2 linked regions of the Homo sapiens genome follow. The protein of the gene in region 1 purifies or fractionates together with the protein of each later gene. This does not show direct contact. Each region holds a gene or a part of one and is shown on either strand. Other genes may lie near its edges. The genes, in order: KIRREL1 and UBR3.

What was found.
Region 2: the proteins of KIRREL1 (region 1) and UBR3 purify together in Homo sapiens (co-immunoprecipitation; 2 studies listed by BioGRID and IntAct, with this or other methods). This does not show direct contact.

What each region holds. Positions count from the first base shown.
Region 1 is NC_000001.11:158,091,554-158,102,788, reverse strand, and holds the end of KIRREL1 (kin of IRRE-like protein 1 isoform 1 precursor), read right to left. Parts: coding exon 11,233-11,235; intron 9,451-11,232; coding exon 9,343-9,450; intron 9,167-9,342; coding exon 9,027-9,166; intron 8,477-9,026; coding exon 8,399-8,476; intron 8,146-8,398; coding exon 7,669-8,145; 3' UTR 2,527-7,668; downstream 1-2,526. UniProt on the Homo sapiens protein: Required for proper function of the glomerular filtration barrier. It is involved in the maintenance of a stable podocyte architecture with interdigitating foot processes connected by specialized cell-cell junctions, known as the slit diaphragm.
Region 2 is NC_000002.12:169,827,414-169,839,530, forward strand, and holds the start of UBR3 (E3 ubiquitin-protein ligase UBR3), read left to right. Parts: upstream 1-40; 5' UTR 41-94; coding exon 95-639; intron 640-12,117. UniProt on the Homo sapiens protein: E3 ubiquitin-protein ligase which is a component of the N-end rule pathway. Does not bind to proteins bearing specific N-terminal residues that are destabilizing according to the N-end rule, leading to their ubiquitination and subsequent degradation.

The sequences.
Region 1 (11,235 bases):
TAGCCTTAACTGCTGACATTCCACCATTGTGATTTGTTTCTGCCCCACCCTAACTGATCAATGTACTTTGTAATCTCCCCCACCCTTAAGAAGGTACTTTTTAATCTCCCCCACCCTTAAGAAGGTTCTTTGTAATTCTCCCCACCCTTGAGAATGTACTTTGTGAGATCCACCCCTGCCCGCAAAACATTGCTCTTAACTTCACTGCCTATCCCAAAACCTGTAAGAACTAATGATAATCCACCACCCTTTGCTGACTCTCTTTTAGGACTCAGCCTGCCTGCACCCAGGTGAAATAAACAGCCATGTTGCTCACACAAAGCCTGTTTAGTGGTCTCTTCACACAGATGCACATGAAAAACTCCCCTAGGATAAATTCCTTTTATGTATTGTGTTTATGGTTTGCTTCTCCTCCCTCTTTCCTTCCCTCCATACCTGCATTCCTCCAGCACATGCTGAGAAACTACATGCACTCTGTTGGGTGATGGATACTAAAATAAATGATACATGCTCTCTGCCTCTCAGTGACCTTCTTTTAGGAGGAAAGTGCTAATGTGTCATACACAACATCCTGTTATCAAAGCAGAAGGGCTATAAATGAGATGAGATCAGTGACATAATAGCTAACCCACGAGACTTCCAGAGAGGAATAGAAGGTGAGTAATGAGTCAGGCAAGGCTTCCTGTAGGAGATGGCCTTTGGGCTGGGCCTTGAAGATAAGTAAAACTTAGAAATGGGAAAGTAAAGGGACTCCAGGCAGAGAAAAGAGCTTGGACAAAAGCACAGAGGGAGGAAAGTTCAGGGGCATACCACAAACAAGGCATAATTCCATTTAACTGTGTTGAAATGTAGGGTAAGTGAAAGGGAGGGTTGTGAAGTAAGTGAAAGATGTGGGGTCATCTCATGGAGAAATTTGAACTCACACAGGAGTGTGTTTATGCCTGGGCCAATAGCTCCTGTTGTGACACAAATGCCTCACAATGAGGGGGTGGCTTTTACAACTTTGCAAAGCCAGATGATAAAGGGGCTGTGTCATTATTACTTATCCTCAGGCTGGAGGTGACTTAGAGGGGCTGGGGCTCCCATCACAGAAAGAGGCCTAATACACAGGGACAAAGTCCTGTGGCCTTTCTTGTGGCTGAGAGTTGGTTTAGGCCCTTGGGGCCTTATGTAGTGCCCTATACAGACTCGTCCCAAAGAACCTGCTGGCCCTGTGCTGGGGTCTGGGGATGTGGAGATGAATAAATGTATCCCAGGTGGACACATAACATAGGAAGCGCCCCAGCACCACTTGGCCTAATAGTATTCACCTGTGCCTCCACATTTGCACAACTTTGCTTCCTCTCCTGGTCTTTTTTCCCTACTCTTTTCTGTTTGCTTTTGTATTCTATCAATGCCATTTTTACCTATGCCAGTGCAACTTACCTCAATGCAGCCTCCAAATATACCTGTACGTCGGCCTCTCATTCCCATCTGGATTGGATTCACCTTGGGCTACCTATAGGTTCTTGGTCCTGGCTACATGCCTCCAAACCCCAGGCCCCATGGCACCTTGCACCCTTCCTCAGCTGCAGCTCCTGTGCCGTGACTTCTAGCCCTCTTGGAAATGGGTTGCATTATTTCGAAAGTATTTTTTCAGCTCTTACATCCTGTCTTCCTCTCTGACTATGTTGGGTGTCCCTTGTGTACAAAAAAGGCTACGGTAAACTGTCTTGAGTTTGCTTCGTTGTTAACTGGATGAAGAAAACAATAAACCCTATTTCTCTAATGATTTATAGCTTTAAAAAACATTATCTGGGCCAAGCACAGTGGATCACACCTGTAATCCCAGCGACTCCAGAGGCCGACGTGGGTGGATTACTTGAACTCAGGAGTTCAAGACCAGCCTGGGCAACATAGCCTCTACAACAAAACAAAATAAAAGTCCAAAACAAAATAAAACAAAACATTATCTGAAAACTATTTCAGGTATCTGCAAACACTCCTGAGAAATGAGCAAACTGAAACCCTTGGGAACTCAACTCAGAGAATTTAGGATTTCTCAGCAGGATGGCCTCTGTGTGTGTGCACTGCTGCACCATCTGTTTTTTCATTCTGCTTCACTACAAGTTCAAAAGGTTGGAGACCTTGTAACTTTGCTTTTTACCCAAACCACAGCGTTTTAAATAAACAAAACCAGCCATTCTTACACACTTGTCCCAATTCCTTTGGGATCTAGATCTCAGATTCAAAAGTCTCCCCTTTTCCCATTCCCATAATGCGATTTGGCACAGAACATTTGGATGCTGTTTTCCAATAGCAGAAGCCTCCAGCTGTTTGTCCCTGAACTGCCATAATTGGCCTCAGGGTTCTGCACAAGTGGCAAACTAGAGAATACGTTTTTGCCCCACGGCCTGGAGGTGGCACAAACATTGCTTCTGCAATTTCAATCCAAACCTGTTTTTTCCCCAAACCAGGACTAACACCCAAAGCCAGGCAGGCTTTTAAGTAACTAGCCGTTAATGCATTAAATAACACAAAACATGGTACTTTTTAAAACATTTATATTTATATATATAAAAAAATTAAATATATATAATATATAGTGTGTTTGAGACTAAAAATATAGTACATAATATTTTTAAAAAAAGGAAAAAAAAGTAGAATAGGAAAAGGTGTGAGGGACACACAGATACACATTGCTAAAAACCTACAATGGTTTGTCCTAACAAAAATAATATCTTTTTTTCTCTTCTCTTAATTATCATCATGGATCCATTTATTTTTGGGGTCTGGGTGGAGAAAATTCAACAGGAGCTAGAAATGGAGGTTGCAATGCCAAGAATGGCTGGGTAGAAAATGTGACCACAGGGAGCCCTGGGCCTCTTCTGGTGAAATTGGACTTCTCAAAATTTTCTGGGTCACTGTTGCTAACAAGATTGTGTGGAGTTTTACTGTATTGGGATTTTGGCTGCTCTTTCCCCAGAGTTAGGGTATTCTCAGGGGGGACAGCATCTGAAGAGCTCCAAAAGCAAACAGAAGAGCTCAGGGCCCATCGATACTCAACAAGGCCAGTGGTTGGGGCCAGCAAAAAACCAGGGTAGGGACAGCAGACTGGCAGGAATGAGTGACAGTTCTATGCAAATGGAGTTATTATTATTATTGTTATTATTAATAAGGGCAGGTTTGTACCAGAACTGCCCAGTATGGCCTGTGACTTCTGCGCAGCAATTATTTCTCCAGGGACAGGGCCTGAAGCTACCTCACAGTGATGCAAAAAAATGGGATTCCCCACTAACCCCCACACACACCCCCTTCCTACCAAACCACACATCTCTCAGTCCTCTCCAGCAGCCCAGAGGTGAACGTCAGGACCACGCTGACAAAGATGAGCCAATGCCTTTCACAAAAAGCCTGGCCTTGAGGAGAGGAGGAGAAATACCATAGGGGGATAGGAGGAGGCCAAGAGAAGGGAATGGGATATTTAAATGCTAATTTTACAGCATCTTCACAAAAATAAATGCCTTTCAATTACATCCCTTGGCCTGTGCACTTCAGTGTTCATTATGGCCTCGCCAGGGTCAGGAGCTTCACTAATCCTTTTGGGCAATTCTCAACATGCACAGTGGCCTGTAGAGGCACCAAGCAGTGGCCTGGCTCAGGTCAGACAGCACTAACTTGGGGAAGCCAGGATTTCTGAGGCCAGGGTGCTTGGGGAGGAACTGGAGTTCAGCAGTAGGGACAGAACCTTCCACACAGCAAAGAACAAGGCAGTTCGCTCCAAACGGGTCTTGGCTTTAATGTGGTTTTCTTCAAACCCAAATGGCTGAACATTGCTATGAACATAGGTCATGTATATTGAGACACTGATTCCGTTTTATGGAGCCCTGTGGCTCCTGACAGGTTAACGAGAGGGCACGAAACTCCAGTGCGACGTGCTCCATTTTGAAAGCAGATAAAGCTCCCCTCATCAGAGTGAAGAGGAAAGTAGCCCTGCTGGAATAAGGGGAGAGCGTACCGCTTGAAGACAGGGTGCTCAGATGTTTTCATTCCAAGCAAGACAGTGATAACAGCACAGCACTGCTCCCATCCCTGGCCCCTTTCCTTTCTCACTTACTAGGCTTTTTGCTTCATGCAAACTCTGTGGCTGGACTTTGAGGGATCCAGAATTTAGGATATAGGGCGGGTCCTTCACGAGGGAAGTGACCGTGGCTCAGCCAAAATCACAAGATCCTCCTCAAGATCCAGAATGTATTCCAAAGCTGTTGTACCCCTTTCCCTCCACCGGCTCCCCTTGCAAGCTGCTCCTTCTCAGGCAGGGGCAGCTGTGCTTACTCCCCGACCTCTGGCTCCAGGCACCTTGGACTGCAGGCTTCACCTGTTTGGTGAGAAGAACAAGCTGTCCCTGGGCCAGAGGAATGTTCCTAAGGATCAGGGTGGAGGAAGGCTCCTCCCATTTTCCCCTACAGAAGGAGTGCCTGAAACCTAGGCACATAACAATATCCCTATGTGCATACTATGTCCTGCCCTGGCAAAAGGCACCTTTGCAAACCCATCAGAAATGAGTGGGGAGCAGCACAGATGACCCGATAGCCAAAGGATAGCCCCACATCAATTTTACTCTGAGGTTTAGGGTGTATTTTGTGTTGCTGTTTGGGATAAAGGGGTCCCTGGTGGAAACTAATTCACTTCTGACAAGATAATGAAGCCCATGGTGAAAGCTTCTTTGAACAGGAGAGAACCCCCCCAGCCAGCTCTCCAGCCCTCACCATGCTTGCTACTGTTCCCAGTTCCTTGCCAGCAATGGGCAGTCCCATCCCTACCCCCAACCCTATGGGTATAACAAAACCAGAATAGTTTTAGGTTTATGCAACCCTCCCCCTTCATTTTACAGGCCAGACAAATTGGGGGCAATGAACAGAAAGTTAGGCCGAGATCTAACCTTTGCAGCTTCAGGACTGGGTCCTGGGTCTCCTGACCTTTAGTCCCTTGCTCTTTCCACTAAAACAAGCCACCAAAGGTGATCAGGATCACCAACTACTGAGGCATCACCATGTTGCAGGACTCCAGGATTCGACAGCAAAGCTCTGTGATCAAGGACGCCTTCCACTCCCCAGAAAAGCTATTCCACTGGGCCCATCAGGTAGGTTCCAATTCAGATTCTGATGCACCAACACGTAAGTTACAGAGGGCAGAGACTACCTTGGTTGCTGATGCTTCCCTGTGCCTTCCAGGGTGCTTGTTTGACACCCAAGAGGCTCCAGTTACCTTGTTAAGGAGTAGAGGACAGTGAAGTAGCTCTGTGTCAGGCTTCTGGAAACTAGGCTTCCTTTCTCAACAATTCTCCCTGCACCATCAGCTCAATTACCTAGTAACCTTAGGCCCTCTCTCCATCATTTCAGTAGAATGAAACTAATACTTAAGCTAAAAGGGGATAAATAAGAGAATCTAGCCAAACCCAAAACAAAAATGAATTCTTTTTGGAATATGCATGTTTTAAAAGCCACCATCTTTAGACTTCAAGTCTTTGGATTCCCCCATGGTTTCTGGTTTTTGTGAAAATAATAGAAATTTGCATGAATTTGTCTGTACAAGAACCTGAATTTCTTGACAGACCTTCCCACTGAGCTCTCATAAAAGGACTCTATAGAAAGGTATCAGCTTCCAGGGATGGAATACAGCTGGAAGCCTGTAAATGCCCCAGATAGGGCCCACTCCACAGGAGTTTTCCCTGCTGAAATGAAGGAGGATGCACAGACTTCCTGTGAAGTTAAAATTAGAGCTACTTGCTTCCTGGGTATTATCTGGTCCTTCCTACAAGGGGTTGGCCAGGAATGTCGCCCCCCAGACCCATCCATAAGGGTGGTAATGGCCTGTGGCTGATAAGCATGTAACTCATTAAAGCGAACATGAATTATGAATGGTGACCACGGAGAAAGGGCGAGGAACATTTTGGGAACTGCACCAGAGGCCCTGTCTCCCACTGGGCTGGACATGCAGCTGGGGAGGCGGGAAACAGCCAACTCCAGACACTGCTTTTTAGGAAGGCGAGGCTGGGGCAGGGGTACAGGTTCTCCTTGGAGCGCCTGTTCTCTTTGGTCAGAAAGTGGTGGCTGAGAAGCAGTCACATGGAAGGTGTGTGTTGGATGTGCGTGCACATGGAGGAGGAGAAATGGCCTGTGTAATGCCTGCGGTGCCCTTCCGCACCACCTTCTCCCGGTCAGCACAAGTTCTCTGTCAGGGCCATTTCCAGGCCCCTTACCTCTCCAGGTCCCCTCACCCATCTCTCTCCTAACACTGTAACACTTAACAGTGTGTCCGAGGCTCACAAGTACCCACTCCCCACACAACCGCCCACATAGGGTCGGTCATCCAAAGCTTGACACTCAAGGCACTGAAAGTGGAAGAAGGAATCTGATTGGTCCAAGAAAAAAAAAAAAGACACTTAAAAACCAAAACCTGTCTCCCATACCCCCTGGAAGGTGGCCTCCAACCAACTGATGGGACATAGGAGAGTAGAGACTGAGAGCCAGGCCCCCTCCGTAACCCTATCAGAGTCCACTGTGTGACAGGTCTGGCAACCTGAATGTTTAAAAATGGATTCAAAGTGCTTGGAGACTGAAAGAGTAATGGAGGGTGTTAGGAACCCCATGGAGAAGAATAGGTACTACCTTTCCTTTCCACTGGGACTTGTATTTGGGTGGGGGAATCCCTACAGCTTTTCTTCCCAAATGAGGTTTTCATTGTTTTTTGTTTTCTTTGAAAAAGAGCCTACAGCACCCCCACCCCTACCTCACCACTCCCCAAACCAGCTCAAGAGTTAAAGCCAGGAAGTGGGGCAGACTGGGGAGAGGAGGCTTGTGTGGCTCCCTCTAGTGTTGGTTCACTGCTGTGCAGCACACAGCAGTATCTGGGTCAATGAGGACATGGTCCTAGCCTTTCTTTCTCCACCAGGACCCTGACTTATCTGGCTGGCCCAGCATGGAGGAGAAGGAAAGCGGGCCGTGCTGCCGGGGGGATTCCTGGATCCCTCTGCATGCTGACAGACAGCTGTCCACAGTGGGTAGCCAAGGTGACTGGCATTTTGATCCCAGCTGAATGAAGACTGGATTTGAATGCAGTGCCAGGGCTGTTCTGTAGACAAGAGCGAACAGTACCCTGTTCGCTCCCTTCTGCAGTACCCTGAGGAAGGAGAGAGGCACCCAGGGCACGAATGCAGACAACAGAGGGACTGGCCAGGCTATCCCGTTTTCCACCTGTCTGTGCCACAGCCACCCACTCCCATACTTCATGTCCCTAGGCCAAAGCCTGCCCATCCCTGGGTACCCCCATTTCCACTTATGGGAGATCAGAGGGGTGGGATAGAAAGGGAATGCTAAAAAGTGCCCCCCTCTGCTTTCCCTAACCTTCACTTTCCCTGTCCCCATTCTAGGGTCAGGCAAGAGTGCAGGTCAGAAGAGACACATCCTCCCGAAGAAGAGGGAAGGGCAGGCCCAGGAGGCTGGGGCATGCACAGAGCACCATCCTCGGGACGGGGTGTTTCTGGGAGACCTGCTCCCCACCTGCCATGGTGGGAGGAAGAAGGCTGGTCCGAGAAGGGAGCAATGAGCAATGCCCCTGAATATCAGGGAACAGCTGTGAAAGCCTTCTCCTCTGCCCCGCAGAGATGCCCCAGCCAGGCTCTGGCCCCTACACGTGAGTCTGCATGCGCTGCTGGAATCGCTGGCCGTAGTCCGAGTGCTGGGAGGTGTAGGAGAATCGAGTGGCTGTGGCGTACTTGCCAATGGGGTCATACGCCTCATATGGGGTCCGCTCCAGGCCAGAGGGTGGGGCCTGGGGGTAGCCCAGTCGGTAGGTGGGGTACCCAGCTGCCCCAGGGAAGGGATGGGAGTTGAACTTCTCATAGTTCTCGTAGGACAGCTGGCTGGTTGTGTCAGTGCCAGCTGGGGCAGCAGGGCCAGGGGGTGTGGGCTCAGGGCCATAGTCAGAGGCAGGGCCCCGGCTATAGGTGTTGAGCTGGGCATAGCCGCTGGAGTGGGAGAGACGGGATGAGGGGCGGCCGTCGAAGCGGGCAGGGCCAGGGGCACGGTAGTCAGCATAGAGCACTGCCCTGGAAGACGGGCGGTCTTCATGGGCACGCACGTTGTAGTAGCCATTGGTGGGGTCCTGGGGGCAATGAGAGAAGAGGATGGAGGCAGTGTTCCCTCTTGGGTGGGGATCAAGTCTCACCATGGCTTTCTGGGCCTCTTCCTCCAGCTCTCCCTATGTCCCCATCTAGCATTCCACCTCCTCTGCTCCTTCAAAAACCCTCCCAACCACTCCTCCCCAAGTCTGTCCTCACCTCACCTCCCCGCTACAGGACCTCAGAAACCCACTGGCCCACCAGCCCTCATGCCCTGGCCCCTTCCCCCTTTCCCACCTTCATCTCATACTCCTCCCGGGTGTCGATGGTGTCGCAGCGCAGGTCCTGCTTCAGATCCACATCATCCTTAAACGACTGTGGAGCAGCAGGAGTGGGACGTCAGCAGACGGAAGCCCTGCTCTTTTCGCCCCTCACCAACCCCTCCCCACGCTCAGAGGCCACCTGCTCATGGGTGGGGTCTGAGGTCAAGGGCAGACTTGAGTTCTGGTCCTCTCAGCAGAGGCTCTGGGATGTGGTGGGAAGAGGCCAGAGACCTTGGTTCGAGCACTAGTTTGGTTGCTAACATGTAATGTGACCTTGTATATGTCACTGCCCCTCTCCAGGGCTGTTTCCTCATCTCAGCAATGAGGCAGATGGACCAGAAAGCCTCTGGGGGCTTCCAACTTTCACACACTGTGGGGCAAAGGAAGTCTTTGGACAATCCCAGCTGCCTATCCTCTGCTGGAGGAAACTAGCCTGGGGCGTGTGTGAGAGAATGTGTGTGAGTGTGGGAGAGTGTGTGTGGCAGGACCAGGGAAGACCGACTGAGGAAGGAGAGAATGACCGCGGTTATTAGAGATCTGGGATGGAGCTGGTCCTCAGAGGGTGGAGAAGGCAGGAGGCCAGAGAGGAGCAGGACCCTCACCGAGTAGATGGCCTTCATGACCCGGGTTGCTGTGGAGACGCTGGCGGTGTCATCCTCCCGGTCAGAATGCATCGTAAGTGGCTCTCGGTTCACTGTCTCCACCTTGATATCCAGCTTCCTCAGGGTCACGTCTTTGCGACCTGGGACGGGAGAGGCAGCCTGGAACAAGTGCTTCCTGCTGGTCTCTGCAGCGGCTGCTTCTGGCTCCCTCTGGGCTGGAGCTCAAGGGCCAACCTCCCATCCACCCCAAGCACTGCCTGTCATGGCCCTGGAAGAGCCAGGGGAAGGCTGTGGGCTGCACAGGGCCCATACTCACTGCCTTTGCGGCGCCGGTAGAGGAAGAATACCAAGGCGATGAAGAAGAAGATGAGCAGGATGCTCGCGCCGATGGTGGCCCCAGCTATGATGCCCACAGGTAACACCTCTTTCGATGGGGAAGGAAAGGTGGAGGGGTGAGGCTGGAGTTATACTGGGAGCTAAGCTCAGTGCTGGCTAAAGGCTAGGCCACAGCCACAGAGGCAACCTTGGCTTGTGTACAGGGCTAAGTTTTGACTGAGCCTGGGGACAGTGTTAGGTTTAAGTCAAGGTTGGATTAGAGAGGAAGGTCTGCATTGTGGTTGGATTTTGGTCTGTGCTCCAGCTCCATCAGAATGGAGATCATGGTCATGTCTCATCCCTGCAGCTGGGGCAGGAGTTTGCCCCTGGTCTTGGTTGTCTGTCGATCCCTGTCCTTCAGCCCACCTGACTATGATGCTTGGCCCCTCGCTCTTCTTTGAGGTCAGCTGTCTCCAAACTCTCCAATCTGCCACCCGTGTTCCGACATCTTTCACCACTGTGCCATCCATAATACCACTGTGACTGCCGAATGTTCACCTATCTACTCAGGGCTCCAACAGTTTTCCTTGGTTTCCTCTGCTTCCCAGAGCTGAGGAAGAGCTCAGGAATCCTGCTTCCAGCCTTCTCTGTCTTCCTAGCAGCCCTAGTTGAATCCAGATCCTGCTTATAGCTCTTCCCCTCTGAGATCTTTCCCTGTGGAGCCCCACGTTACTGTATCTACTCCATTCTTCCCCACCCCCAACCCCCTTGCTGGCATCCTTAGTTAAGACTGAAGTGATAGGCCGGGCATGGTGGCTCATGCCTGTAATCCCAGCACTTTGGGAGGCCGAGGTGGGTGAATCATGAGGTCAGGAGATCGAGACCATCTTGGCTAACACGGTGAAAACCCGTCTCCACTAAAAATACAAAAAATTAGCCGGGCGTAGTGGCGGGTGCCTGTAGTCCCAGCTACTCGGGAGGTTGAGGTAGGAGACTCATTTGAACCCGGAAGGCACAGGTTGCAATGAGCCAAGATCGCACCACTGCACTCCAGCCTGGGCGACAGAGCAAGACTCCATCTCAAAAAAAAAAAAAAAAAAAAGACTGAAGTGATGGGATGCTGTCATTTTCCATGTGGTTCTCCATCTCCTATGTCAAATGGTTAGTTCTCAAAAAATAAAACAACAACAAAAAAATGCTATCTTTTCCTCCTTGGACTTGGTAGCTTCCAAAAAAGTCAAAGGAATACCTCTTTTATCATGTGAGAAGTGCCTTAAAGGAGAGAACACTTTTCTGCTATCAGAGTGACAATTCTTGAAGAGGTAGGGGAACCCATACTTACTGAACACCTATTGTATGCCAGGCATTTTGTAAATATTCTCTAATTTAATCCTCACGTCCACCCAATGAGATGGGCGTGTTATTCCCTTTTGCAGTTCATATGATTCTTCTCCATCCGAATTAATTTACTACCACTCTGTAAGTCCCTCCTCCACTACACCGAAAGTTTCTTGAGGTCAGGGACTGTGTCTTGTTCACAGCTCTTTCTGCAGCCCCTGGGGCAGAGCCTGGCACATAGCAAATGCTCAGTACACTTTAACGAAGTGAGGGCATTTCCCCAGTTGAGCATGGAGGCCAGGTTCTGGAGGGAAGGCCCCAGAGAGTTCTTTCCCTCTGATGCACAGACTCTTACAATAGGCAGGAATCAGAGGGGAGTAGCCCCAAACCCCTTCACTCCTGACCTCTCAGCCAGGACATCCCTCTGTGTGTCCCCTCCCTCAGAGCAGAGCCCAAGGGAAGGGGAGCAGCTGAGCCCTGCCCCTGGAGAAAAGAAGGAGCAGAATCCTCAGGCTGCTCTGCACCCCAGCTGGCAGGCAGCACTACCAGTCACCTC
Region 2 (12,117 bases), on another chromosome or scaffold:
GAGTTGGGCGGGCCGAGCAATCGCAGCAGTCTATTCCCTCACTCTCCCTGGAGGAGCCGCTGGCCCTGGACTCTCCAAATTCTGAGCTCTCATCATGGCGGCGGCGGCCGCGGCGGCCGTCGGGGGCCAGCAGCCGTCACAGCCCGAGCTGCCCGCGCCGGGGCTGGCCCTAGACAAGGCGGCCACCGCCGCGCACCTCAAGGCGGCCCTCAGCCGGCCGGACAACCGCGCAGGTGCTGAGGAGCTGCAGGCGCTGCTGGAGCGGGTGCTGAGCGCCGAGCGGCCGCTGGCCGCGGCTGCCGGCGGCGAGGACGCGGCGGCGGCCGGAGGCGGGGGCGGTCCGGGGGCGGCCGAGGAGGAGGCCCTGGAGTGGTGTAAGTGCCTTCTGGCGGGCGGCGGCGGCTACGACGAGTTCTGCGCGGCGGTGCGGGCCTACGATCCCGCGGCGCTCTGCGGCCTGGTCTGGACAGCCAACTTCGTGGCCTACCGCTGCCGGACGTGCGGCATCTCGCCCTGCATGTCGCTGTGCGCCGAGTGCTTCCACCAGGGCGACCACACCGGACACGACTTCAACATGTTCCGCAGCCAGGCCGGGGGCGCCTGCGACTGCGGGGACAGCAACGTGATGCGGGAGAGCGGGTGAGTGGAGCCCTCCCCGCGGGCGAGGCGACCCTGGGCCGGGGACGTCGCGGGAGGGCCTGGAGCGGAGCACTGGGAGCCCACTCTGAGCTGTCAAGGGGAGGGTGCGGGGGAGGGTGCAGCCACAGGGGGATGGAGGTGACTGAGCTGTCAGCGGTGGAAAGGGGGTGGGGAGGAGAAGGAGGGGAGAGGAGAGCGGAGAGCATGTTTAGGAAACCGGGCTGTGAATTTTGGGGAAGCCAGGGTGGGTAAATGATAGCGAGAAAAGAGCCAGTGTATGGGGTAGGAGGGGAGTGAGGGGAAATGATTTTTGGGGAAGCTCGTGTCGAGCTGTCAAGTGTGTACTTGTTGGGAAAGGCTGTAAAGCCTGGTTCTTGGGAAGAGACTTAGGTTGTGATTTGGATTGGCTGGGAGGGGATGTTATTGGGGACCGTATTGGCTCGCGGGATGATGAGAGCTGGGGAGGTGGTCTTGTACGTGCAGGGAAGGACGCTTGAGGAAAAGGTCTTCTGAACTGCCAGTGTGTCTGTCACTGTGAGAGAAGGAGCTCTTGAGGGTTGAGGGAGGAGGGAAGGGGAGGGGCCTGCATGAAAAGTGACTGTTGAGCTGTCAGTGGATTATTTGGTATGCTGGAATGACATTTAGAATTGGGCTACTGAGCAGTCAGTTACAGAATACCCTCCATACCAGGAGAACAAACAAAATACTGAGCGAACCAGGAATCAAGTGTTAGGTCTTCTCCAGTTAAGGGCACTTTGTTCACTCACTGATACGTGAACCTCTGTCTAAAAGGAGACAACAAATGCCCTTTTGACAGAAGCGATGCATCAGATGTTGGGACTTATGAGAAAAGACATTTCAGAGTTTGCAGTGAGTTACAGAGAGTTGGTACATGTAGGGTCGTGGCTTGGAACATGATGTCAATGTCAGGGACAGTCTGAGAAAAAAGGAAAAAGTGAAAGGGGCGATTTTGGATGGGCAGTAGTTGAAAGAATATTAGCAACTACAGGTTGCTATCAGTTATTAAACTTCTTCAATTTTCAGGTCTTAGGATTAATGACAGAGTACAATCTTTTTATAAATGGTCACCTTTTTCTTCGGAGTACTTGTAAGGTTACTGTTACTCCAAAATGTTTGTACCTACTATGTGCAAGCAAGGCTTCTTGGATATTAAAAATGAATGAAACATTGACCAACCCCTTACTCTACTTGCACTGGAGTAGAAAGTAATAAATTCCTTAAACAATAACTTGGTAGCTAGAGGAGGGAGATGAGGTTTCTGTGCAGAGGGAGTAAGAAAAAGTCTTCAGAAAGGAGGTATTTTGAATTTGCTAATAATAATAACAACATAATTGCAGCTAACATTTGAGTTTTTTTTTTTTTTTTTTGAGACGGAGTTTCTCTCTTGTTGCCCAAGCTGGAGTGCAATGGCGCGACCTCGGCTCACTGAAACCTCCGCCCCCTGGGTTCAAGCGATTCTCCTGCCTCAGCCTCCCAAGTAGCTGGGATTACAGTCATGCACTACCACGCCTGGCTAATTTTGTATTTTTTTAGTAGAGACAGGGTTTCTCCATGTCGGTCAGGCTAGTCCCGAACTCCCGACCTCAGGTGATCCGCCCGCGTCGGCCTCCCAAGTGCTGGGATTACAGGCGTGAGCCACCGCGCCCGGCCAACATTTGAGTTCTTGAACTGTATGTCTGATACTTTAAAAGTACTTTTTAAAATTTAATATTTGAATAGGTAAAATATATAGCTAAAAAGTACACACACACACACACACACACACACACACACACACACACGGAAGTTTTTCTCACATCTAGTCTTCTATCTGTCCAGTTCCTTCCCGCTTAGTTTCTCTTGGTGCAGAACAAGCAAAGATGTTTCCTAGTTTTTCAGTCTCTTTTTATGCAAAGGGTTACATACTTTCCACTGTTCTACATCTTGCATTTTTTGGTTATCTTAGATGTATTTTTCCTATTAAAAAATCAGTGTCGTCATTCTATTTTTTTAAAAAAACTGCTGCATAGTGTTCCATGTTTTCAATTTGCCATTCTTTAATTTCTTTTTTTATTTTTATTTTTATTTTTTGTGCGTGTGAATTTGCCATTCTTGATTTAATGTCTCTTCATGGGCATTTGGCTTTCCAGTATAAAATTAAAAACGTGGTGTATCTGTCTTTTCCCCACCTGGTCAAGAGAGTCAGTGGGATAAATTCTCAAAAGTGTGATTTCCAAATTGCCCTCCCTAAGGCTTAGTACTAATTACTCTGTGAGACTGCCTGTTTTCCAACAGCCTCATCAACAGAGTAGTAGTAAAATTTTGGACTTTTATCTATTTGGTTAAAAGTGGCCAAATTCTAGCTGTTTTATGTGATTTAACTTATTTATTCTTTGACTCTGAGATTATTACTTTTATTATTCTCATTGTACAGAAGAGGAAAGTAGGGCAGAGTTAAAAACCTTGCTCAAGTTCACACAGGCAGTAAGCTAGGCATGCTGGCTCCAGGGCTCTGGAGCCAGACTAATCAACCATTTCTCTTTACTGCCCCTACTAAATAGCATTCTTACTGGTTTTTCTTTTCAATTCTATGTTTTATCTTTTTTTTTTTCCTTAATATGCTATTCTTATTTGGGCCTTTGTTTCTTTCTTTTTAAACTTTTTTTGTTTGTTTTGTTTTAAAGAGGCACATCAAAACAGGAGTTGGAGCAATCCTTTACTGATATTTAGACATTTTTACTTCTTGGACTGGGTTAGCATTTAGGAAAGCCTCCAGAGAACCTGAAGGTAGGAAATAACACTGATTCTTTCCTGACTTTTGGAATACAGTGGTAATTATCAGGTTGTCGTGGATGAGATGGAAGTCTGATCGCTTGTGATGCTTCAGTGTACTACCAGAAATATGTCAGTGAGTTTCTTTGAAGGTATTCATACAGTTTTAGGGCATCCAGGCTATAGACAGTCAACATCCTAACCTCATGGTATTTGCTTTTACTGGTGTCTCATAGGTAAGTATTATTTTCCCAGTCTGGCAACCCTCTATGAGTTGGTACATTATATATATATATATATATATTTTTTTTTTTTTTTTTTTTTTTTTTTTGAGAGAGAGAGTTTTGCTCTTGTTGCCCAGGCTGGATTGCAGTGGCACGATCTTGGCTCACCGCAACCTCTGCCTCCCGGGTTCAAGTGATTCTCTACCTCAGCCTTCCAAATAGCTGGGATTACAGGGATGCGCCACCACACCCGGCTAATTTTTTTTTTTTCTTGTGTTTTTAGTAAAGACAGGGTTTCTCCATGTTGGTCAGGCTGGTCTTGAACTCCTGACCTTAGGTGATCCACCCGCCTCGGCCTCCCAAAGTGCTGGGATTACAGGCATGAGCCACCACACCCGGCCGGATACATAATATTTAAAGATTTATTATTATCTTTGTCTGAAACCAGAGCTATTGCCTGTATGTGTCAGCAGTTGCCATGTCCAGTTTCATAAAGGGCAAGATTGAACAATAAACAGTATTGTGGCCATGCAATTACTCTGAATTTTTTCTAACTGCTTGGATTGGATAGAGTAATTTTCCTGGGCTATACAGCTAATTTACTGCCTCAAGAGAAATAGGTGATGTTGACCAGCTCTGCAACCTAAAAGACTGCCTCTGGAACCTTTTTAGAACTGGAAATCATCAACAGCTTGTAACAGTGTTCTCATGGGCAAAGCTGGACTACACTGGCATGAACAGAATGTTTGAACTTTTCTAAGTTTTTGGTATTTTAAAAACCCCTTTAGATTGCCAAAGATTGAATGTGTGTTGATTTTGGGGTTTTTATTCTAACTGCCATAAGTTTGTAAATTTCATGGTTTAGTCACTTTTAGAGGAAGGATTCCTTTTTTTCAGCTGTATTTGTGCTCTTAGTAAATGAGAATAAATCTTTCTGTGCCATAATCCTTTTCACCAGTGTCTGACTGTTGCCTGTAGGATGTTCTTGATTGGAGATGGAGAAGAATCTTGAATCTATCACAGCTGTATTTATATTTAATTTTCAAATTAGCAATTATAGAACTGTGGGGAGGATTTAGTTATTTTTGACTGAGTAGTATTGATATAATCAATGTGGCAGTATTAGCAGATATACAAACCAAAGGAAGAAAACAATTGAGGATTCATTTGTGGGATGAAATCACAAAGGCTATGGAAATTGTGTGCTAATAACTGTATGTGGCTGGGCGCGGTGGCTCACGCCTGCAATCCCAGCACTTTGGGAGGCCGAGGTGGGCAGATCACGAAGTCAGGAGATTGAGATCATCCTGGCTAACATGGTGAAACCCCGTCTCTACTAAAAATACAAAAAATTAGTCAGGCGTGGTGGTGGGTGCCTGTAGTCCCAGCTACTCGGGAGGCTGAGGCAGGAGAATGGCGTGAACCCGGGAGGCGGAGCTTGGAGTGAGCTTGGAGTGAGCTTGGAGTGAGATCCCGCCACTGCACTCCAGCCTGGGCGACAGAGCGTGACTCTGTCTCAGGAAAAAAAACAAAAAAACTGTATGTATAACTACAGTTTTGCCACTAGTGAGTAAGTGCAGTCATTGTCAGAAATGCTTTATGGGGGCCGGGCGTGGTGGCTCACACCTGTAATCCCAGCACTTTGGGAGGCCGAGGCAGGCGGATCACCTTAAGTCGGGAGTTCAAGACCAGCCTGACCACATGGAGAAACCCCATCTCTACTAAAAATACAAAATTATCTGGGCATGATGGTGCATGCCTGTAATCCCAGCTACTCTGGAGGCTGAGACAGGAGAATTGCTTGAACCCAGGAGGCGGAGGTTACAGTGAGCCAAGATCATGCCATTGCACTCCAGCCTGGGCAACAAGAGTGAAACTCCATCTGGAAAAAAAAAAAATGCTTTATGGGTGGATGAACTCAAAACAAAATAACCTGTAATGGAAAGTCTAAAATACACTCGTTCCTCAGTATATGGTATACATAGGAGACTGGTTCCAGAATACCCACCTCCCACCCACTCTTCAGGGTATACTGAAATGCTGCTTATATGAAAAGTCTGCCCTTCATGTATGTGAGTGTCAGATCCCATGAATTCTGCATTTTTGATCCATGTTTAGTTAAAAAAATCCTTGTATAAGTGGACCCTTGTAGTTCAAACTAGTGTTGTTCAAGGGTCAACTGTAATGTCTGACTAGCTGGTTTTGGGCTCTGATGGGATACTAACTGGAAACTGGGATTTTAAACATTTAGTTCTCAAATTTTGGTGCAGAGAATGAGGAGTTTCATGTTCTGTCCTATATTACAGATATTTTTGTCTCCTTGCTTGTTCTTCCTCACATATTCTAAGCTCCTTAAAAGATAAGGACCACATTTTGCTATTAGCCAGAGGCCAGCACCTACTAAGTCTCTTGTACTTAGGAGGTGTCAGTAATTTTGAATTAAATTGGATAAAAAAGTGGCTGCTATACCCAAAAAGTTACTGTAAGATTACATTGCTTTAGTTACTCATGAGGTGGCATTGATTATTAAATCCATAGCAGCTTTTTTCAGAGTGCTTTCATTCTTTTTTTAGTTTCAGAAGTAATACACATTGATTATAACATAAAAATAAGTGGATAAAGTAAAAAGTAAAGGTGCCTTTCTCCATCCTACCCCTCAGTAAGAAATTTCCTTTTCTTTTAAGGTTACTTATGTGTTTAAAAGAGATTAGTTATAATTTATCCAGCATTTCTAGATTTTTTTTTTTTTTAGTGACAGGTTCTCGCAGTGTCTCCCAGGCTGGAGTGCAGTGGTGTGATATCACAGCTCACTGCAGCCTCTACCTCCCAGGCTCAAGTGATCTCCCACCTCACCCTCCCAAGTAGCTGTGACTGTAGGCGCACACCACCACACACAGCTAAATTTCTTTTTGTATTTTTTGTAGAGATGGTATTTCACCATGTTGGCCAGGCTGGTCTTGAACTCCTGGCTTCAAGCAGTCTACCTGCCTCAGCCTCCCAAAGAGCTGGGATTATAGGCGTGAGCCACAGTGTGGTGCCTGGCCTGTGTTGTGGGAGGTTTTTAGGTTTTCTGATCTGTGGTAGCCAGAAATTGAACCACGTGAATGTCTGGTTGAATAGTGTTACTCTCTTCAGTAGCTTGCTTTTTTCCCCTTAACATATTTATGGATACTATCTCAAAAGTAGAACTGCTTCATTTTTAAAGTTAAATAGTATTTCATTGTATTTCCATGTTTTTGTAATGTACTATGATTTTTGCGGTCAGTCCCTACTGATAGACATTTAAATTGTTTCCAGACTTGGGCTGTTGTAAACATTGTTGCAGTCAGTATTCTTGTATACACTTGTTCATATGTGTGTGAGCTTATGTATGAGGATACATTCCTAGAAGTTATATCTTGGTTGAAGGAAATTTGCAAATTCAACTTTGATAGAACCCTCCAAAGAAATTAATTTACATTCCTGCCAACAATGTATGAAACAATTTGTTTCCCCATATTCTGGCAGTATATATGGTGGTATCAGTGTTTCTGATCTTTGCTGCTCTCATAAGTGAAAAGTTATATCCCATTTCATCTGTTATCTCCCTGTCCCACTGCTTTTTCGTCCCAGCCAGGACTATTTTGAAGCAAATATCAGATACCTTATAATTTAATTTAAAAATATTTGAGTATGCATCTCAGTAAAGAGATGTGAACTCTAAAACATAACTCAAATGTCCATCAGCAGATGAATGGGTAAGCAATATGTGGAATATACGTACAATGGAATATTTAACCTTAAAAAGTAATAAAATTCTGACACATTAGAATGTTACAATGTAGATAAACCTTGAAGACCTTATGCCAAATGAAATAGGCCCAGCACAAAAGAACAAATGCTTGTATGCTTCGGTCTATATGAAGTGCCCGGAATAGTCAAATTCATACAGACAGAAAGTAGAATAGTGATTATCAGAGGCCAAGGGAAGGGGAGATTGGGGAGTTATTTTTTTAACAGGTACAGAGTTTCAGTTTGGGAAGATGAAAAAGTCCTTGAGATCGATGGTTGTGATGGTTGCAAAACAATGTGAATGTACTTAATGCCACTAAAACTGTACACTTAAGATGTTTTAAATGGTAAATTTTATGTTATTTATATTTTACCACAATTAAAAAATAATGTCAGGTATGGTGGCTCGCACCTGTAGTCCCAGCTACTCCCGAGGCTGAGTTGGGAGTATTGCTTGAGGCTGGGAGTAAGAGGCTGCAGTGGATTATGATCACACCTGGGAATAGTCACTGCACTCCAGCCTCAGCAACATGAAGTGACCTCATCTCTTGAAAAGAAAGCAAAAAACAAACAACTCCCCCAAAACCACAATACCAATACTACACCTAAAATATTCATATTTTGTTTGTTTGTTTGTTTTGATATGGAGTCTCACTCTGTTGCCAGGCTGGAGTGCAGTTGCATGATCTCGGCTCACTGCAACCTCTGCCTCCTGAGTTCAAGCGGTTCTCCTGTCTCAGCCTCCCTAGTAGCAGGGACTACAGGTGCATGCCACCATGCCCAGCTAATTTTTGTATTTTTAGTAGAGGTGGGGTTTCACCATATTGGTCAGGCTGGTCTGGAACTCCTGACCTCAGGCAATCCACCTGCCTTGGCCTCCCAAAGTGCTGGGATTACAGGCGTGAGCCACCGTGCGTGGCCTAATTTTTAAATCATTATAAAACTCAGTTAAAACTATTTTCAATTATGAAACAATTTGAATTTACAGAAAAGTACAAAAGTAGTATAACAGATACCTTTGTACTTACCATTGAGATGAATAGATATTAACCTTTTGCCATGTTTGCTCTAGAGTTGCTTTTAGTCAAAAAACCAAAGAAAGGTCAACCCACCTTTCCCTTTCTCTTTTCCTCTCCAGACGTTAACCATTTTCCTGAAATTCCTGTGTGCACTGTCTCTCTCTCTCTCTCTCTCTCTCTCTCTCTCTCTCTCTCTCTCTCTCTCTATATATATATATATATATATATATTTTTTTTTTTTTTTTTTTTTTTTTTGAGATGGAAACTCGCTCTGTCCCCATCAGACTCAGGCTGGAGTGCAATGGTGCGATCTCGGCTCACTGCAACCTCCGCCTCCTGAGTTCAAGCAATTCTCCTGCCTCAGCCGCCTGAGTAGCTGGGATTACAGGCGGCCGCCACCATGCCTAGCTAATTTTCATATTTTTAGTAGAGATGGGGGTTTCACCATATTGGCCAGGCTGGTCTCGAACTCCTGACCTCCGGTGATCTTCCCGCCTCAGCCTCCCAGAGTGCTGGAATTACAGGCATGGGCTACCACGCCTGGCCCCACCAGGAATTTGAGGTCTTGTTTTTCTGCTTATTGAAACTTGGTGTTAATGAGAACACATGGACACCACGAAGGGAACAACACACACAGGGGCCTGTTGGGTCGGGGGCAGGGAGAGGGAGAGCATCAGAAAAAATAGCTAATGCATGCTGGGCTTCATACCTAGTTGATGAGTTGATAGGTGCAGCAAACCACCACAGCAACCATTTACCTATGTAACCTGTACATCCTGCACATGTAATTCAGAACTTAAAAAAAAAAAAACCAAAAGACACTTGGTGTTATATATATAAATTTATAATATTTTACCAATCTGTTGGATACAAACATCTTTTTAAAATTTATATTTTCTTGACTAGTAAAGTTGAACATCTTTTCATATGTTTTGGGGCCATTTGGGCTTCTTTCTTGGTGAACTGCTGGTTCATATTATTTGCCTGTTTTGTTTTTCTGTTTTACTGAGTTTTAAGAATGCTGTACATACTCTAGATGCTGATCCTTTGTTGTATAAATACTTAATTTCATCTTCTAGTTTGTGTCTTGTCTTTTTACCTTGAAATATATAATTTTGTTGTAAACGATTTTAAATTAAAAATGTAGTTTTTCTTCTACAGTTTGTATTATTTGTATCTTGTTAAAGAAATCTTCTTCACCTTGGTTTAAAAAAATGCTTATATGTTTTCTACTGAAAGATTTAAGGTTTTTCATTGTACACTTAGGTCTTTTGTCCATCTGGAATTTATTTTTACATGTAGTATGAGATTGAGGTCTGTATTAGTCTGTTTTCGCACTGCTATAAAGAACTGCCTGAACGGGCCCGGAGGCTCACGCCTGTAATCCCAGCACTTTGGGAAGCCGAGGCAGGTGAATCACCTGAGGTCGGGAGTTCGAGACCAGCCTGACCAACATGGAGAAACCCCATCTCTACTAAAAATACAAAATTAGCCGGGTGTGGTGGCGTGTGGCTGTAATCCCAGCTTCTCGGGAGGCTGAGGCAAGAGAATTGCTTGAACCTGGGAGGCAGAGGTTGCGGTGAGCCGCGATCACGCCATTGCACTCCAGCCTGGGCAACAAGAGGAAATCTCCGTCTCAAAAAGAAAAGGAAAAAGAACGGCTGGAGACTGGGTGATTTATAAAGGAAAGAGGTTTAATTGACTCACAGTTCAGCATGGCTGGGGAGGCCTTAGGAAACGTAGAATCATGGTAGAAGGCACCTAGTCACAGAGCAGCAGGGGGGGAGAAGCGAGCAGGGGAAATGCCAGATGCTTATAAAACCATTACATCTCGTGAGAACTCACTCACTATCATGAGAACAACATAGGGCAAACCATCCCCATCATCCAGTTACCTCCACCTCATCCCACCCTTGACGTGTGGGGATTATGGGGATTACAATTCAGGATGAGATTTTGGGTGGGGACACAACCAAACCATATCATTAGATCTAATTTTATCTTTTTCAATATGAGGATTCACTTATTGAACATTTTTTTCCTCCATTGATCTATAATGTCACCTCTATCACAGACCAAACCTATGTGTGTCCTAAGTTCTCTATTGTATTGATATGTCTCTTATAACAATACCATACTACTTTATTAGAACATTAAAATGTATTTTGATATGGCAGGATTTCCTTATTATTAGTCTTCAAAAGGGTTTTTGGCTGTTCTTGGTTCCTGTTTTCATTTGAATTTCAGGAGCTTGTCAAGTTCTCTGGAAAACTTCTGTTAAGATGTTGACTGGCATCACATTAAATATGAGGAGGTTGCAGAAAGATACATGTTCAAGTATGTTCATTGTAACACTGAAATAGGGAAAAATGGAAACAGTGAGATTAGTGAACTGTAGTTTAATCATTCAATGGAATACTTTATGGCAGAATACATAAATTGCCATCCATCTTAGTCTGTTTGTGCTGCTGTTACATCAGACGGAGTAATTTAGAACAGAAATTTATTTATTCCAGTCTGGAAGCTGGGAAGTCCAAGATTAAGGCATTTGTGTGTGTGTGTGTGTGTGTGTGTGTGTGTGTGTGTGTGTGTGTGTGTGTGTGTGTGTGTCTGGTGAGGCCTTCTTGCATACTCACATGGCAGAAGCGGGGAAGAGGGCAAACAGGGCCTAAGGTAGTTCCCTCCAGCACTTGCTTAAGGCAGAGCCCTCATGACTTAATCACATCCCCAAAGGCTTCCGCCTCTTAATACCACCACAGTGGAGATTAAGTTTCAATGTGAATTTTGTAGGGGACACACGTTCAGACTGGTGCTCTGCCTCTGCCCCTCGCCCCCAAAAAGTTTATGTCCTTTTCACATACAAATACATTCATTCCATTCCAGTAACTCCAGAAGTCTTAACTTGTTCTAGCACCAGCTCAAAAGTCTAAAGTTGAGTCTCATCTAAACATCATTTCAATCAGATACGGTGAGACTCAAAGATACGCTTCATCCTGTGGCAGATTTCTCTCTAGCTGTGAACCTGTGAAGTCAAACAAGTTACCTGCTTTCAAAACACAGTGTCTACACTGTTGGTGGGAATGTAAATTATTAATAGTACAGCCACTGTGGAGAACAGTATGAGGTTCCTCAGAAAACTAAAAATAGATTACCATGTGATCCAGTAATTCCACTACTGAGTATATATCCAAAAAAAGGGAAATCAATATATGGAAAAGAGACCTGAAGTCCCATGCTTATTGCAGCACCATTCATAGTAGCCAAAATATGGAATCAACTTAAATGCCCACCAATGGAAGAATGGATAAAGAAAATGTGGTATATATGCACAATGGAATATTATTCAGCCACAAAAATAATGAAATCTTGTCATTTGTAGCAACATGGGTGGGACTGGAGGTCATTATGTTAAGTGAAATAAACCAAGGGCAGAAAGACAAATATCACATGTTCTCACTCATGTGTGGGAGTTAAAAAAGTGGATCTCATGAAGATAAAGAGTAGATTGGTGGTTACCAGAGGGAAGGGTAGAAAGGAGGAGGGGGATAAAGATAAGTTAATTAGTGGATACAAATATATGGTTTGATGGAAGAAATAAGACCTAATGTTAGATAGTATCTATCAGTAGGGTAACTGTAGTTTACAATAATCCATTGTAAATTACAAAATAGCTAGAAGAGAAGAATTTGAAT